Regions from separate parts of the Homo sapiens genome. Here region 1 is linked to region 2. A link means that fine-mapping ties the variant in region 2 to the expression of a gene that starts in the linked region. Tissue or cell type: whole blood. Region 2 holds a variant in brackets; the other region holds the start of a gene. All regions are shown on one strand. Distances are between the middles of the regions.

Evidence for each region. PIP is the estimated chance that this variant, and not a neighbour inherited with it, causes the effect.
Region 1: CHST7 starts here. The variant in region 2 is fine-mapped to the expression of CHST7 in whole blood (TOPMed, PIP above 0.99). The same link has a PIP of 0.9 or more in blood mononuclear cells and monocytes.

The regions. Positions count from the first base shown.
Region 1 is chrX:46,568,731-46,576,910 of GRCh38, reverse strand. CHST7 (carbohydrate sulfotransferase 7) reads right to left here and starts at 3,146. Exons shown (of 2, transcript NM_019886.4): 1 at 1,488-3,146. The coding sequence starts at 2,979. The coding sequence ends at 1,519. RefSeq lists silencers at 1,899-1,958, 2,079-2,128.
Region 2 is chrX:46,621,799-46,629,978 of GRCh38, reverse strand. All of the region lies in intron 14 of SLC9A7 (solute carrier family 9 member A7), which reads left to right. LOC124905182 (a long non-coding RNA gene) reads right to left here. Exons shown (of 2, transcript XR_007068222.1): 1 at 5,622-8,180; 2 at 3,073-4,716. Among named protein-coding and RNA genes, the nearest start is that of CHST7, 52 kb to the right of the region's middle. The variant C/T (reference allele first, on the strand shown) is at 3,253.

The DNA.
Region 1 (8,180 bases), 53 kb after region 2:
CACAGACTTCCTAGCAATTTCAGAAACTGACTAAGAAAACCATTTGATTACTGGGAGAAAAATTAGTTAGCCAGCTTCTGAAATCACTCTGAAACCCTGGTTCTGTAACAACAACAAAATCCCTCTTCATTAATATCTTCAACGTTTGTCCTCAGAGCTTCATCTCAGGGGAATGCTGAATTACACTATAAAATAATGAATGGAAACTTAACTCACTTCCGCCCACCCAGCACTACTTTTCCTCCTCCTCTGGACTGACTGCACAGTGCAGAAGGCGGCACCCTTCCAACTCACATAAAGTTTGGGGAAACACACTCCCATGTCACTAAGTAGACTCCTATGGTCAGCACTGTGCAGAACAAACCCTTCCCTCAGGCCATACACTGACCCACACAGAACACATTTTGAGACTGTTTAAGCCCCACTTTAGCATCTTCAGATATACAGAAAAAAACAAAAAACAAAAATGGAAAAACAAAAAAGAGGGGGCAGTGTCTTTTCACAAAGCTCCTCCTGCAGTCACAAACTGCTACTGCCAATTGAAGGCTCCATCTGTCAAACGGATGGGGTGGAGTGGGGGACACCCAACCCTGAGGTCTTGTCGACACTAGAGGAAGCTGACCAGGCAGCTTTTGTGACCTGATGTGAATGGGATATGGTCAAATATCCTGCAAACGCCAGCTACAGGGAGAAGGGGGAAGGGAGAGGAGGAGGGGAAGGGGGAGGAAGAGGAAGAGAGGGAGAGGGGAAATGAGAGAGGGAAGGAGGGGGAGGGGAGACAGAGAGGCGCACATGAGCCAGGGGAAAGCAAGTCTATTCACTACACAAGCGCCTGAGACACACAATGTGCAAGAAGTGTTGCAAGAGCCGCTGGACTGTGCCTGCATGTTTGGAAATTCAGGAGAAAAGCCCTGGAGCCTGCGCATAAAACAGACAGAGAAGAAACATGAAACAGAAAGATTAGGGATAGGTAGGGTTAGAATCAATGCCTTTCCACCAAACTCTCTGCTTTTGGCTTTCTCTGTGCCTGTAAACACCATTGCAAAGTCTCCTCACAGGACAAACTGGCATCAAGATAACTCCATAATCATCAACCTCAAATGGTTTCCGAAATCCTATACTCCACATGTCAATTCCCAGTCTCACGGCTCATTATGACTGTTTCAAACCTTCTCTACTCTCCTCAGCCCTCTGAAACCTCCTACTTCATACAGGGGAATGGGAATGCAGAGACCTGGCTTCCACCTCAGTCACGCCTAAATATCCTCTCTCATCTCAGGATCTCCCTCTAAGGAGGCGCGAGGCTAAGCTGGAGATTCCGATGAATCTACCAAATTCTACGAGCAGGACTTTCCCATCCTCTTGGACCTGATCTGATAGAATGGGATCCAGCATGGTACCCTCCCCCCTACACTTCCCCCTCCCCAGGCCATTCCAGGCTCCCGGAAGACCAGTCCCGGTCCCTGCCTTGCCCCGGGCCACCTTACCCGGATCCGTGCCGGGGACAGGGATGGGAGGCTACGTGGCGCCGTCGGCATCCATCTCCAGCGGCGTCTCCCCTTCCCTGGGCTGCTCCGCGTCGCCCTCCTCTCCGCTGCGAGGGTAGGCGAGCAGACGCATGGCTGGAGCGCAGGCGGCCTCCACCTGGCGCACCTGCTCTCGGCTCAGGCGCTCGCGCCAGGCGTGCACCGCCTCCCGGGCGTCGCGCGCTGACAGGTGGAAGGGCCGGTCGGCGCCGTAGGCCGCGCCGCGAGTCATGTTGAGCGCGAAGGCATCGAGCGCTGCGAGCGCGCGTAGCCCGGAGAAGCGCAGCAGGCGGCGCAGCTGGGCGCGTGGCTGCCGCACCAGGTCCTCATAGCGCAGCCTCAGGTAGCGGCGCCGCAGCCAGGCGGGCGCGCCGCGCGCGAAAAGCAGATCGCGCAGCCAGGCTTCGCAGATCACCTCGAGCGCACCGGTCAGGAAGAAATCGGCGCGCGGCGCGGCGGGCAGCGCGCGAGACTGGCCCCCGGGGCGAGCACCCACGCCGTGCGCCAGCAGCACACGGTGGAAGCGGTCGCCCCTCTGGCGGGTGCGCAGCACCTGGATGCTCTCGCGCAGCAGTCCCTGCCTAGACTTGAGGCGCGAGTTGTGCACCGCCCTCGGGTCGCGGAAAAGCTGCACCACCTTCAGGTTGAGGCCTGGATCACGCAACAGGGGCACCAGCACGCCCAGATCGAGCAGGCGCACGTCCTTGATGACCACCACCGGGTACTTTCGGCACTCGGCCTCCAGGGCGCGTATCGCCACGGGTGGGCAGCTGCGCTCGCAGGCGGTGTCCTCGACGAGGCCCACCTCGGCCCGGGCACGGGGTGCGCCAGGACACAGTGGCGGCGAGCAGATGACCTTGTTAGTCCGCCAGCGGAAGAGGGCGGCCGTGGTAAGATTGGCCGTGTCCGGGGCGCGCGCAGCGGGGTCCCCCGGCGGCGCGTACAGCCGCAGCACGGAGAAGTCGCAGCGGAAGAGCGAACGCAGCATGTCGCGCAGCGCGCCCTGCAAGCTCTCGGCGTCGCCCGGATACAGCGCCTGCCATAGATGCCACATGGGCTCATACAAGTAGAAAACGTCCGGGTGCTGGTTAAAGAGTTCGCCCAGGAAGGACGAGCCGGTGCGCCAGGTGGCATGCACGTAGATGTGCTGCTTCTCGCGAGACACTGCCTCCCCGACAGCGCCGCTGAGGTTGCTTGGGAACCGAGGAGACTGGTTCGCGCCCCCTTCCTCGGCGGCCCGCGCCTCCGCTCCCTGCTCGCGTTCGCCGGCCGCCGCCGCCTCCAGGCTCCACACTCCCAGGCTGCGCTGCAGGCCGGGGCAGTGCTCGGCGCCCTTGTCCCCGTCGCGGCCGCCGTCCAATACGGAGGGGACGAGCAACAGCACCAGCGTGTACAGCACCAACAGCAGCGCGAACTTGCAGTACTCTCGGCGTCGCCGCCGCCGGCCCTTCATCGTTCACCGACCCTCCAGAGCGGGTCGGGCGCCAGTCTTCTCCCGTTCCTCAGAAATCCCGTGCCAGGTCCGCTCCTGTGGCCTCTCCCGGCCCCTCTGCGCCGGGAGGAGCAGAGCCGCGGGGCCGCGCATCCACAAGGGGAAACTTGGAAGGCGGTGGTGCTACTGACGGCGCCCCTGCCCTCTCGGCTTAGCAGCCGGAGAGCCGCCTATTGGCCGGCTTGGCAGCCGCCCGCCCCGCCTTTCTGCCCGCCTGGGTTCGCCCACGGCTCTGCCAGATCTGGGCGGGGCTGTAGCGGGGCTGGGACGCCGGCTTACCCAGCCAGACCCCCACCTTTCCCCAAACCCTCCGTAATGAAGTCTTCATCAATGACTTCAGGCAAAGGAGGGGCCTGTGTGTACAGAATGTACCCAGTAAAGGGCCATAGACCCCACCCGGAGAAGGTCACTGCCTCTTCTGTTTTATGTCCCCTGCCTAGCCATCGCTATCCTAGGCAGATAAACACTCGCCACTATACATCCAGCGCCCCCATCAGCCCTGGAGTGGGTGTTACTGAGTTCCGGACTGAAAGATAGAAGATTGTACGTGGCAGAGCGGTCCAGGGGGGTTGGAGATACTACTGCATCCACGCAGCACATTTCATAAAGTCTAGCCTTTGTGAAATTCTAAGTGTTGTGTTCCTTAGGGTTTCACCAGCTGATGGGCTCTGCACATTTTACCAATACTCTGGGGCCCAGTTTGGTCATTTGTAAAATGTGAATAATTCTTAGTACCCATGTACCTCCTGGGATTGCGAGATTTGGGGGTTGTTACCACAGTATAACCCAGCCTATTCTGACACCTATGAGCAAAAGACATTTACAGAATCAAAGTGGTAGAATGGTGACCTTTCTCAGGAGCTCGGTGTTTAAAAGGACCCGTAAGAAGAAATGTGTACCCAAAGATAGATGAAAAAGAGACAGGAAGTCCAACAGGCAGATGAAGACTAGAGTTACTAAAATTCAAAACAGAACCAAAAAAGATACATTTTGCTCTGTTTCATCAGGCTAATGAATAAGGAAGTGAGAGCTTCCTTTCACCAGCTTGGGGAAGGTGTTGTAAAGTTAATAAAACATAGAAAGCATATCTACTTATCTCCACCAGGGGAAGGTGTTCAAATTGGAAGAGTGAGAACATATGCAATGCTCTCCACTGGTCTTTTTCATCACGGAAGCTACTCCACCTGTGAAACCACTGACTCAAGCATTTCGTTTTCTTTCCACAATTCCCCTCTTCTTCCAGCCAGTTGTTCAAATCTTCCCTATTCTCCAACCTCCACTTTTTGACCACCACCCCCACTTTCTTCTCAATTTTTCATATTCAGCTGAAAGATGCCATACCATTATTTTAATAACACTCCCTCCAATAAGCTAAACTCACGTGCCCTCTGCCTTTTCATTACTCATCTAGCAAAATCCCCCAAACCCTGCTTTTGGCTTTCTCTGTGCCTGCAAACACCACTGCGAAACATTTCTCCACAGGTGTGAGCCAGGCACAGTGGCTCACGCCTGTAATCTCAGCACTTTGGGAGCCCACAGAACAGATCAGCATCAAGATAACCTCATAATCATCAACCTGAAATGGTTGCTGAAATCTTAGGTTCTTCATGTCACTTCCCAGTCTCCAGTTCCATTATGATGATTTCAAACCTTCTCTAGTCTCCTCAGACTTCTGATACCCCTCTTCCCCCACCCACCTCTTCTCAGCACATGACCTTACTGCCTACTTCATAAAGAAACCATGTTAGACGATCTCTCACTTTTCCACTACCAAACTCATATATGCATTGACCTCTGTACACATCTCGTTTATAGCAAGGATATGATTTTGCAATATTAATCTACAACTTTCCCTTCTGTTTTCACTTTTCCCTCCTCTCTGGCTTTTTTAAAAAGCTTTGAGACAGGGTCTGGCTCTGTCACCCAGGCTGGAGTGCGGTGGCACTATCACCACTCACTGCAGCCTCAACCTCTCAAGCCCAAGCGATCTTCCTACCTCAGCCTCCCAAGCAGCTGAGACCACAGGCATGTGGACCACACCCAGCTAATTTTGTTTGTTTGTTTGTTTTTTGTAGAGACCGGGGTCTGTATGTTGCCCAGGCTGGTCTTGAACTCGTGGGCTCAAGTGATCCTCCCACTTCGGCCTTGTGCTGGGATTACAGGCCTGAGCTACTGTGCCTGGCCTCCTCTCATCTTTTAAGCAAGTAGGTGGCTCTGTGCTGGTGTGAGGGGAGAGGTGTGGCTGGGCAGAATGCAAATAGTTGCTGGTGTTTCCCGCTTCCCCCCACCCCCCGCCCTCCGCTCCAAAAGCCTCAACTCTGATAGTGGAAAGTGTGATAGGTTTTTTAAATAACCACAAAGTATTCCCCTCCTCTGTTTTGCCTTTGGGCAATGCCTTCCCATACTGACTCTGGGATGACCATGTGGCTTGCATTGGCCTGTGGGACAGTAGCAAACATGACACAGCAAAGGTTTGAAAAATACTCCTGCTGTGGGAATTGCCCTCATCCTGCTCTTTGGAACCCTGAGATCGGCTCGTGAAGAAGCCTGGGTTAGCAACATGGCTCAGAAAATAAGCCCTCCCAGCTGAGGCCCCCCACCCCCCAGACAAACAAGCCTGCTGACCGCCAGACAGGTGAGAAAGGAGATAGATCCTCGACCAGTGCTTCTCAAACTTTAATGCTTGAAGGCTCCTGTCAAAATGCAGAAAGTGGGCCTGGCCCAGTGGCTCACACCTGTAATCCCAACGCTTTGGGAGGCCGACGCGGGTGGGTATCCTGAGCCTAGGAGTTCAAGACCAGCCTGGGCAACATGGTGAAACCCCGTCTCTACCAAAAACACAAAAAAAGTTAACCAAGCATGGTGGCGTGCACCTGTAGTCCCAACTACTTGGAAGGCTGAGGCGGGAGGATCACTTGAGCCCAGGAGGTGGAGATTGTAGTGAGCCGAGGTCATGCCACTGCACTCCAACCTGGGTGACAGAGTGAGACCTCATCTCAAAAAAAAAAAAAAAGCAGAAAATGATTCATTACACCTAGGGTGGGGCCAGAGAGACTACATTTCTTTTCTTTCTTCTTCTCCTTCTTCTTTCTTCTTTCTTCTTCTTTTTTTAAATAGACAGGGTCTTCTCTCCCTCTGTCACCCAGGCTGGTGGAAGGCTGGAGTGCAGTGGCGTGATCATAGCTCACTGCAGCTTCAACTTCCTGGGTTCAAGCAATCCTTCTCATGCCTGGCTAATTAAAAAAAATTTTTTTTTAGGCTGGGCGCGGTGGCTCACGCCTGTAATCCCAGCACTTTGGGAGGCCAAGGCAGGCGGATCACGAGGTCAGGAGTTGGAGACCAGCCTGGCCAATATGGTGAAACCCCATCTATACTAAAAATACAAAAATTAGCCAGGTGTGGTGGCACATGCCTGTAGTCCCAGCTACTCGGGAGGCTGAGGCAGAAGAATCACTTGAACCCGGGAGGCAGAGGTTGCAGTGAGCCAAGATCGTGCCACTGCACTCCAGCCTGGGCGACAGAGTGAGACTCCATCTCAAAAAAAAAAAAAAAAATTGTAGGGTCTTGCTATGTTGCCCAGGCTGGTCTTGGACTCCTGGCCTCAAGCAATCCTCTTGCCTCGTCCTCCCAAATTGCTGGGATTACAGGCACGAGCCACTGCACTGGGTCCTGAGACTACATTTCTAATAAGCTCCTGGGTGCTTCTGATGCTCCTGGTCTGAGGACCACACTTAGAGTAGAAAGGTGCTACACCTTCCTGCCCTAACTGAGCTGACCCACCAAATTGTGAGAAATAATAGATGTAAGTTTTAGGGGTTTGTTTTGTAGCAAAAGCTAGCTGATATAAAGAAGGTGTGAGGGCTTAGACGAAATGTTTTGGAGAAGCAAAAGAAAGAGCAGCAGCACTCTAGTGCCCCCAACCCCACTGAGACATTTTCCTTAGGCTAGGAGGAGTGGGCAAAGGGAGAAGTCTATGGATCCTGCAGCCCAGGGCACCTGAACTCTTTTTCCTGGCAATGTGTCAGGGCAGAGCAGGAGTCAAAGAGAAGTGGCCACATGGTTCAGCTTGACAGAGATGATCAGGGGCACTGTGCCAAACCTTCCTGGGCCCCAGGCATAGCTTGGAAGCAGCAGAAGGGTCAAGTGACAGTGATGGAGACATCTCAGGGCAACTAGGTGAGCCAAAAACCCAATGATTCTAAGACCCCAGATCAAGAGTACATACAACCTTGGGAGTAGAGGAACCCTAGGAATTAATAAGGTCAATCAATGGTCTGTCATCCTAGCAGAAGGAAAACTCAATCAGAATTAAAGTTGTTTTCTATTAAGTGATTTCTATCACATCTAAGTTACTAGATCTGCTATCCATTTTTCACAATAGAGTGGTACAATAGAGTAGGCCCCGGTCCCTCCTATCAATCACCATTTCTCCTCCCTATTCAACTACACCCTCTCAACCAGATTATTTCCACTGATGTGAAAATTAAACAGTTTGATCTCTTTCTCTGTTTCTTCCTCTATCTCTCTCTCTTTAAAGTCCCATTTATTTGCATCCTCCTTTAGCATAGCTGCTGCTAACACATACAGTACCCTTGTGAGAATCAGAAAGTGCCCCCTCCAGACAGATGAATTGCAAGGGGGCTGACCCCATTCAAATAAGTACCCCTTCCTTCAGGCCACAGCCCCAGTCCAAGGTTAACAGCTTGAAGGCAGAACCTGGCCAGATTCTAGCCCGCTGTTGCATCTTTCTGCCAGGTACCCTCACTCTGCCCTTCTCCTACCCTTGTCCTGTTGCCACTGGTTTCTCTACCCACTCCTCACAGCCCAGCTTCTTAGTAGAGCTGTCTATACTAGTTCTCTCTGTGCTCTCATCTCCTACTCATTCTGTGGCAGGCCAGGTCTCCCTAACGGCTGAACAGGCAGGCCTCCCTAACAACTGTTTCAGCACTGAGTGGTTAAGCTAACTATTAAAAGCTAAGAGAGCCAGTGCCCTTATACAAAGGCTGGAAGGTAACAAAAGCACACCAAGAGTTTTGCCTAGGTCTTTCCTGGGCCTTGAAGCGTGACAAGAGAAGGAAGGAGTTCTTAACAGGACCCATTTAAGATTAAACAAGTTTCTCTGGGTGCAGTGGTTCATGCCTGTAATCCCAGCACTTTGGGAG
Region 2 (8,180 bases):
CCATTATGTCAGTTGGGAGCATGTGGTCTCAGTGAGTTCTCTTTGAAAATTTGCTATTTGACTCTAGCTTTGATTAAGGACTTTAGAAAACAGGAGTTCAGGAACTGAGCACCTCGAGGCTAATTTAGAGTATAACAGTTTGGGAGATCTTGAAACTCAGCCTGAGAAAACCCCAGGGGAAAACATGATGGCCGTCCTTATTTCACCAAAGGAAAGATAATGGCTCTGGTAGGACATGGCTGCCCTATTCTAAAGCATCCTCCACAGAACTGTGGCCAGTCTAGATTAATTTTGTAAGAAAAAAAGGCCAATAGCAGCTGGATCATAAGATTTGGAGAGATTTCATCTTGCTCTGGACCATTCAAAACATCCCCACCCCCTTTGCTGTTTCCCATTGCTCCTACCTCTGCATTCAAGCATCTGTAACAGGAAATAAGTGAAAGGATTTGGCTGGTCATGTAGTAGAACTTACTATGTATCACATGAGCCCTGCGCACTGGGAACACTGGGCTTGTAATTAGATTCAGTAACAAGCTTACTGTCACTTTTCTGTGGAAATGTTTGAGTGAGAAAGCAGCAGGTCCAAAGTGCTGAGGGTTCTTGTATTTAGTCCATGCAGTAACAGCTAAAATAGCCCCCACCCCCAGGTGGAGTGAGTCTCAGGAACCTCCCTGGATGGGCCTGGATGGATGAACTCAGTGTTCCTGTCAGCTCCCAGAGGGCCCCTTGGGCTGAGAGCACCGCACATGTGGTGTTGTGAACGGGCTGGCAGCCACTCGCGCTGCACTCCTAATGGCACCCTGTTTGCCACAGCCCTAGCCAGAAGCTGTGTCACAGCTTCCCCCTGACCTCCTTCCTTCCAGACCTCATACACAGTCATGCAGAGGGCCCCTCAAAGTCAGTTCCACTGACCTTTTGAAAGGTTTTCAAGATTGCTGTCATATGGGGAAAAACATGCAAACTTCAAGCTTGGTTCTCCAGGACACCCTCTTAGAAATGACTCACGCCCTTGTGCAGAGAGGACCTTATTTCTCCAGTTCCTCCTGGTCTGACCTCCTCATTCTAGTGAGCCACTAACAGCAGGGCTCAGTGCACTCTGTGGCCATGAGAAACAGGAAAACAGAAATAAATGGGCTTCTCATTTTTGGGTGAAACCCTGGGTTCTTGCAGTTTCCCCTGAAATAGATCCAGGTCACATGCTCAGTGTTGTCATGAAACTGAAATCAGAGGTAGGGAAAGTCCAGATGTTTGTTCTCCACCAGAGAAAAAAAAGGGCGGTTCTCTTTACCTCATTTTCTAAATAATCTTCCTAAAAACAACAAACAAAAAAGTGACATTTGATGGGAAGGCATGTCTTATAATGAGCACAATTCTCCTCACTGGTCTTGAAGCCCAAGGCTATAAACAGAGTCATGGCTAGGGAGCTACAGAATATTAGCTCATGTGGGAAAAGGAAGGGAGCTGTTGGCTAGAACTTTGCTTCATGTGGGGAAAGCATAAAAATATTGTGGGCAGACTTCAGCTTTGTGTCCCCTGGTAAGTTTGACTCATTAGAACAAAACAAGACAAAAAAAACAAAAAACAAAAAACAAAACTCAGTGCTTTGTTTCTCTGGAGGTCTTGGTGACTTTGCAACCAAAACAAAAACAACCCTAGCTGGAGGCAAGCTGCCCAGCCCTGGGGGTGGCCTCCCACCCCGATAAAGCAGGGGACTTTTCATGCCAGACCAGACAGCTGAGATTTCTGTTGGCCGTACATGCAGACACATCATTCACTTCCTTCCCTGAGTTTACAGAAGAGCACTCATTGATGAGGCCACTTTGGAGCAGCTAAGAGTGTGAATCTGAATTTATCCCAGTTTCACCATATCAACAGGACAAGGTCACAAGCCGGATATTAATGGAGTGTGGAGGAAAGGAAACCACCAATGCCTGTGTATATGCACACGTGTGTGCGTGTCTGTCTGTGTGTATGTAGTGAAAACTGTAGAAAATCAGCAGTTTATTGTTGCGTTCACATATGACTTTCTGAGCAAGTTAGAATCATTTGTTTCTGGGTCCTCCGTGTTTTTTTTTGTTTGTTTTTGTTTCTCCAGGCTGAAATCTGATACCCGTAAATCTGTCACCTAAATCTTTAACTTCAAACAGTTGCAGAGGTGCCTTTCCTCCAGTTGCTACTCTGTGACCACCGCCCCCCCCCCAACCCGCCCATTTTTTTGTGCTTCCAAGTGCCTCCCTTGGCCCCTGATTTCCCTTTCTGCTCTTCCTTTTCTGTTTTCTAAAAACTCAGAGTCAAGATCAATTTATTCATTTATTTGACAAATAGTTATTGAGCACCTGTTCTATTTCAGGCATTCTTTCAGGTTCTGGGAAAATATCTGCAACAAGGTAGATGAATCTGCATCCTGAAGGGCTTGGTGACAAGGTGATAAAGGGTGAGGGTGGAGAGTGGCAGAAGCAAGAGAGTGGAGACACTCAGGCCTCACCAGCCCCACTGAAGCAGAATCTGCATTTTAACAGTGTCTCCAGGGAATGTGTGTACATTTTACCATTAGAAAAGCCCTGATCTAGGCAATGTATAGCTCTGGAGAGTTTTAAGCAGGGAAGAAAACTATCTGTGTATCACGGTCAGAGATTTGACTCTGGTTTTTTTTTTGTTTTGTTTTGAGACAGGGTTTCCCTCTGACGCCAAGGCTGGAGTGCAGTGGTGCAATCACAGCTCATTGCAGCCTTGACCTCTTGGGCCCGAGGGATCCTCCTCCCTCGGCCTCCTGAGTAGCTAGGACCACAGGTGTGTGCCACTTCACCAAGCTAATTTATAAAATATTTTTCTAGAGACAGGGTCTTGCTTTGTTGCACAGGCTGGTCTCAAACTCCTGGGCTCAAGTGATCTTAACCCTCCCAAAGTGCAGGGATTACAGGCATGAGCCCACTGCCTGGCTGATTCCCTGTTTCTAAACCCTATTATTACCCTCTGCTGAGAAATCTTGGATCCATTATCCCAATGATATGACAAAGGCCCTGTATTAGTCCATTCCCACACTTCTATAAAGAACCACCTGAGGCTGGGTAATTTATGAAGAAAAGGTTTAATTGACTCATAGTTCTGCAAGCTGTACAGGAAGCATAGCTGGGAGGCCTCAGGAAACGCACAATCATAGTGAAGGCAAAGGGGAAGCAAACACATCTTACCATAGCGGAGCAGGAGAGAGAGAGAGCAAGGGGGAAGTGCCGCACACTTTTAACCAGATCT[C/T]GTGAGAACTCACTCACTATCACAAGAACAGCAAGGGGGAAGTCTGCCCCCATGATCCAGCCACCTCTTACCAGGCCCCACCTCCAACGCTTAGGATCACAACTTGAGATGAGACTTGTGGGGGTACACAGAGCCCAAACATACCAGGCCCAGGCCGGGCGTGGTGGCTCACACCTGTAATCCCAGCACTTCGGGAGGCCAAGGCAGGTGGATCACCTGAGGTCAGGAGTTCAAGACCAGCCTGGCCAACATGGCAAAACCCCATCTCTACTAAAAATACAAAAATTAGCTGGGCATGGTGGCAGGCACCTGTAATCCCAGCTACTTGGAAGGCTGAGGCAGGAGAATCGCTTGATCCCGGGAGGCGGAGGTTGCAGTGAGCCGAGATCACACCACTGCACTGTAGCCTGGGTGACACAGCGAGACTCCATGTCCGAAAAAGAAAAAAAGCATATCAGGCCCAAATCAAGTGACATCATTTATTTACTCTTCTGCTCCATATTAGTTGTCTGTGACTGCTGTAACAAATTACCACAAATTTAGTGGCTTAAAACAATAAAGTTTTGTTTTTGTTTTTGTTTTTTTTTAAGGGACAGAGTTTCACCATGTTGGGGCTGGTCTTGAACTCCTTGGCTCAAGTGATCTGCCTGTCTTGGCCTCCCAAAGTGCTGGGATTATAGGCATGGGCCACCATGCCCAGCCAAAACAATACAGTTTTGTCATCCTTACAGTTCAGTAGATCAGATACCTGGTGGGCTCAGCTGGTTTCTCTGCTTCAAGTTTTTCAAGGTGTTGGCAAGGCTAAGCTCTGGGGAGAAGCCACTTCCAGGCTCATTCAGGTTGTCAGTAGAATTCAGTTCCATGTGGTTGTAGGACTGAGGTCCTGTGTTCTTGCTGCAAAGCCAGCAACAGTGGGGCAAGTCAAGCTCTGAATCTCTCCCGCCCTTTCTTCTACTGCATTCCTTCCTCTGACTCTTTTGCCCTCCATGTCCTTTTTTTTTTTTTTTTTTTTTGAGAGAGAGACAGTCTTGCTCTATTGCCCAGGCTGGAGTGCAGTGATGTGATCTCAGCTCACTGCAACCTCCACCTCCCAGGTTCAAGCAATTCTTGTGCCTCAGCCTCCTGAGTAGCTGGGATTACAGGTGTGTGCCACCACACCCAGCTAATTTTTGTATTTTCAGTAGAGACCGGGTTTCGCCATGATGGCCAGGCTGGTCTTGAACTCCTGACCTCAAGTGATCTGCCCACCTCAGCCTCCCAAAGTTCTGGGATTACAGGCGTGAGCCACTATGCCTGGCCCTCCTTGTCCACTTTTAAGGGCCCACGTGATTGTCCTGGGCCTACCTGGATAACCTTAAGTCCATCCACAAAGCCTTTTGCCAGGTAGTGTAACAGGATCCAGGGATTAGGCTGTAGAAAGCTTTGGTGGGGTGGCCATTATTCTGCCTACCACATGCTCCATCCCTGAAAAAAAAAAAAAAAGTAAGCTGTTCTTATTAGTGTAATGACCTTATCTTTTAAAAACATCTTTTAATATTATATAAGAATGGAATGAAATGTAACTCTACACAGATATCATTATGCATTCATTCTAGAAAAATTATTTCAAAAATAGGACTGTTTGCTATTCCCCAGTTCTTTAATCAGCTTTCTTTTTCTTCATTATATTTGTCAGTCAATATGTATTTGTCTGTCTCCCCTCCCCCTACCCCCCAACCCTCGCCACCTTCACCTTCTGGAAAGAGTGCTCCTTGAGGCCCAGGTGCTAAGTTACATTCCTCTTTGTGTTTCCAGCACCCAGCATGGTGCCTGGCACATAGTAGGTGCTTAATGAATGCAGAAGAAATAGACACTCATTGTTACATGCTCAAAAAATGATAATAAGCAGGGTTGGTGGTATTTTCTTGAAGGGGCTTCTCTATTAATAATGGCAGTAAAAAGATGAAAATTCCTTGTGTAAAAAGCCACACAAGATAGCCAAATGATGTTAATGGCTAGGCGTTTTTTTCCCCCAAACAAATATGTGCTTGAAATTACATATCCAGTCTTTGGAAATGAACTTAATTAGTAATATGAGCTCTAACTACATGCCAGATTCTGGGTTAAATATTTCACAAATATTTAATCAGCACAAAAAGTCACATGGCAAACAATAATGAGTCAATATTTGTTGAGTGCTTGCCACATATCAGACACCATCCTAAGTTCTTTAAATGAAAAATCTTTTACAGTTCTAAAATTAAAACCTATTTTCTCTACATTCACACCACTTTTAATGCCAAATATGTAGGGTCTTTTTGTATACCAGCCAGTTCTCCAATTCCCAATGAGTACCAACTGGACCTCCTACAGTTTAACTCACTACGTACCTGGAGTTAGCGTCAGATCCCACAGGTTAAGGACTCAGTCCCACAAGACTGTCCCCACTTCAGACACCAGTTGCAAGTCCCAGGTCGTGACCTGTACTTCAGACTGACTGGCTATAGGGGGGGGTTCCCAACCCCTCCTCAGGTTCGATAATTTGCTAGAATGACTCACAGAACACAACTTTTACCATTACCAGTTTGTTATAAAGGATACAACTCGGAAATAGCCTAATGGAAGAGATGCATAGGGCAAAGGATGGGGATGGGAGTATGTGGCGCCAACTTGGAAGCCCTCCAAATTGTGTCATTTAGGGTTTTATGGAGGTTTCATTACATAGGCATGGTTGATTAAATTAGTAGCCATTGGTAATTAACTCAATCCCCAGTCCTCCCCTCCTAGGAGGTTGGGATGGGGCTAAAAGTTCCAATCCTCTAATTACATGGTTGGTTTCTCTGGCAATCAGTGTCCATTCAAGAGTCACCTTATTAGCATAAATTCAGGTGTGCTTGAAAGGAGCTTATTATTAATAAAAAAAGATGTTCCTCCCACCCCATCTACTCAGGAAATTCCAAGGGTTTTAGGAGTTTTATGTCAGACAAAAACCAGATATATATTTCTTGTTCTATCACAACATTACAGCCTCATAATGCCCCTAGAGGTAGGTAATTATTAATATTTCCAGTTTACAGATGAGGATACTGAAGCACAGAAAGGTTAGGTAACTTGCCCAGCATCACACAGCAAGACAATGGCAGCGGCACAGTCAGGAGCCAGATAGTCTCTTGAGAGAGCCTGTGATATCCACACCTACACTTCTTGGAGTGCTATGTCGCTTTTGAAACATTTCTTAGAGAAGCCACGCTTCTGCACAGGCTTGAAAGGTGAATAGAGGTTGGCCGGGTAGGTGTTCTGGGTGGGAGAAGGTGAGAGGAAAAAAGAATGCTCCAGGCCCTAGAAGTTGCCTGAGCTGAAGACATGAGGTGCGAACCCAGGTTTTGAGGAGGGGCGAGTTGAGAGAGCAAGTCTGTGCTTTTTCTGTGGACGGCACAGGAGTGGAAAATCCAAGAGTCGCCAAGTACAGCCAGGAAGGAGGCTCCGCCTGTTCCCACAGTGACCCTTCCTCAGTCCGGTGCTGTTCGGAGCCCACAGGAAGGGCTCTCAATGGCTTCTCTGTGACAGCAGCCCCAATCATGTCATGAAGCAGTTATTGCTTGTCTTCCGGGTCAGCTTTAAAAAATTAGTTCTGTCCCACAGAACTGCCCTGATTTCCCCAAAGCCACCATATGTGGATTTATCTAAGTTCTTCCTATACCTAATCATGCTTCTGGCACCATCTCTTGGAATAAGAAGTTGTTTAACACCCTTTTCACAAAGTTACACCTTTGATTTGTCCTGAATTTACCCCTTGTAGCCTCTAAGCGTTGTTTCTTAGTTCTTACATTTCGGGATTTGCTGTGGAGTCTGAGGTCACTTTATCTTATTCATGGATTGCAGGCATATCTTTCCGTAGCCTGAGAAGACCTTTTGTTAGTTTGCTGTCAAACCATTCCCTTGCTTTACTCATTTTAATTGTCTTTTTTGGGGCTTATATAAGTCTCTTGTAGCTTTCTTTTTTTAAATTTAACTTTTAACTTCCGGGGTTCTTGTAGCTTTCTTGAGATTAAATGGCAAGAAATTAAGTAGTCCAGTGATAATAAATGCTTTGTGGTTTTGCAGAGGTTAAGATGACAGAGTAGGGTTCATTGTTTTCATCATTGATTTAAGGGAAGAAGCGGAAGAAACTGACTTTGGGGTACTCGTTTTGTGCCTGATGGTTTAATAGTATCCTTCCTGATGATGTTTATCGTTGTGCTGGCTTTTTCCTTAGTAAAATTCTACAGGCACTTAGAACTGAGAACTTAGAGCCTATTACTTTATAAAGAACCATTTGATTTTTTCCATTATATATTTGCCTATCAAAAAAGTCATCTGCTACTTTTCTACTCAGTCATGTGGCATTTTGGAATCTTCCCAGAGTTGTCATTGGGTTAGCAATCAGTCACCCTGCAAATGGAGGCATTTCTGTGCTCTCTCTCTTGCTCATGATTTATAAAAATGTAAAATCAAATTGGTCTCTGGGGTCTCTCCTTGTTTATATTTCCTCATCCACAGAAGGGCCCATTTAACTGAGCCATTTCCATATCCATCACTAAACATTCCTGAAATACCGAGGGGATTCAATTTTTAAAAATAATCTTTGCTGTTGGAAACTTTAGGAGTGTATTAATAAATAGTGCTTGCTAATTTCTCTCCTTCTCTTGTCTATGTGCTTCTCAAAGATCTTTGATTAATTATTTGATGTTGCCATTGCGGGTAGAATTTACATTCACCATGATTTAAAACTACTTGTAATTTTGGTTCAAGTTGTATTTGGTGATTGTCAATTGTCCCTCACTTGCAGAGTTGCCTCTCCCTGTAATATTAAAGAGAATGATGATAATAATAGCTTCACAAGCAGTCTGTGCTTGCACAGCCCTAGTAGTACCCTCAAATTGCTGCAGTCAGTCTGAGTTTTATATTAA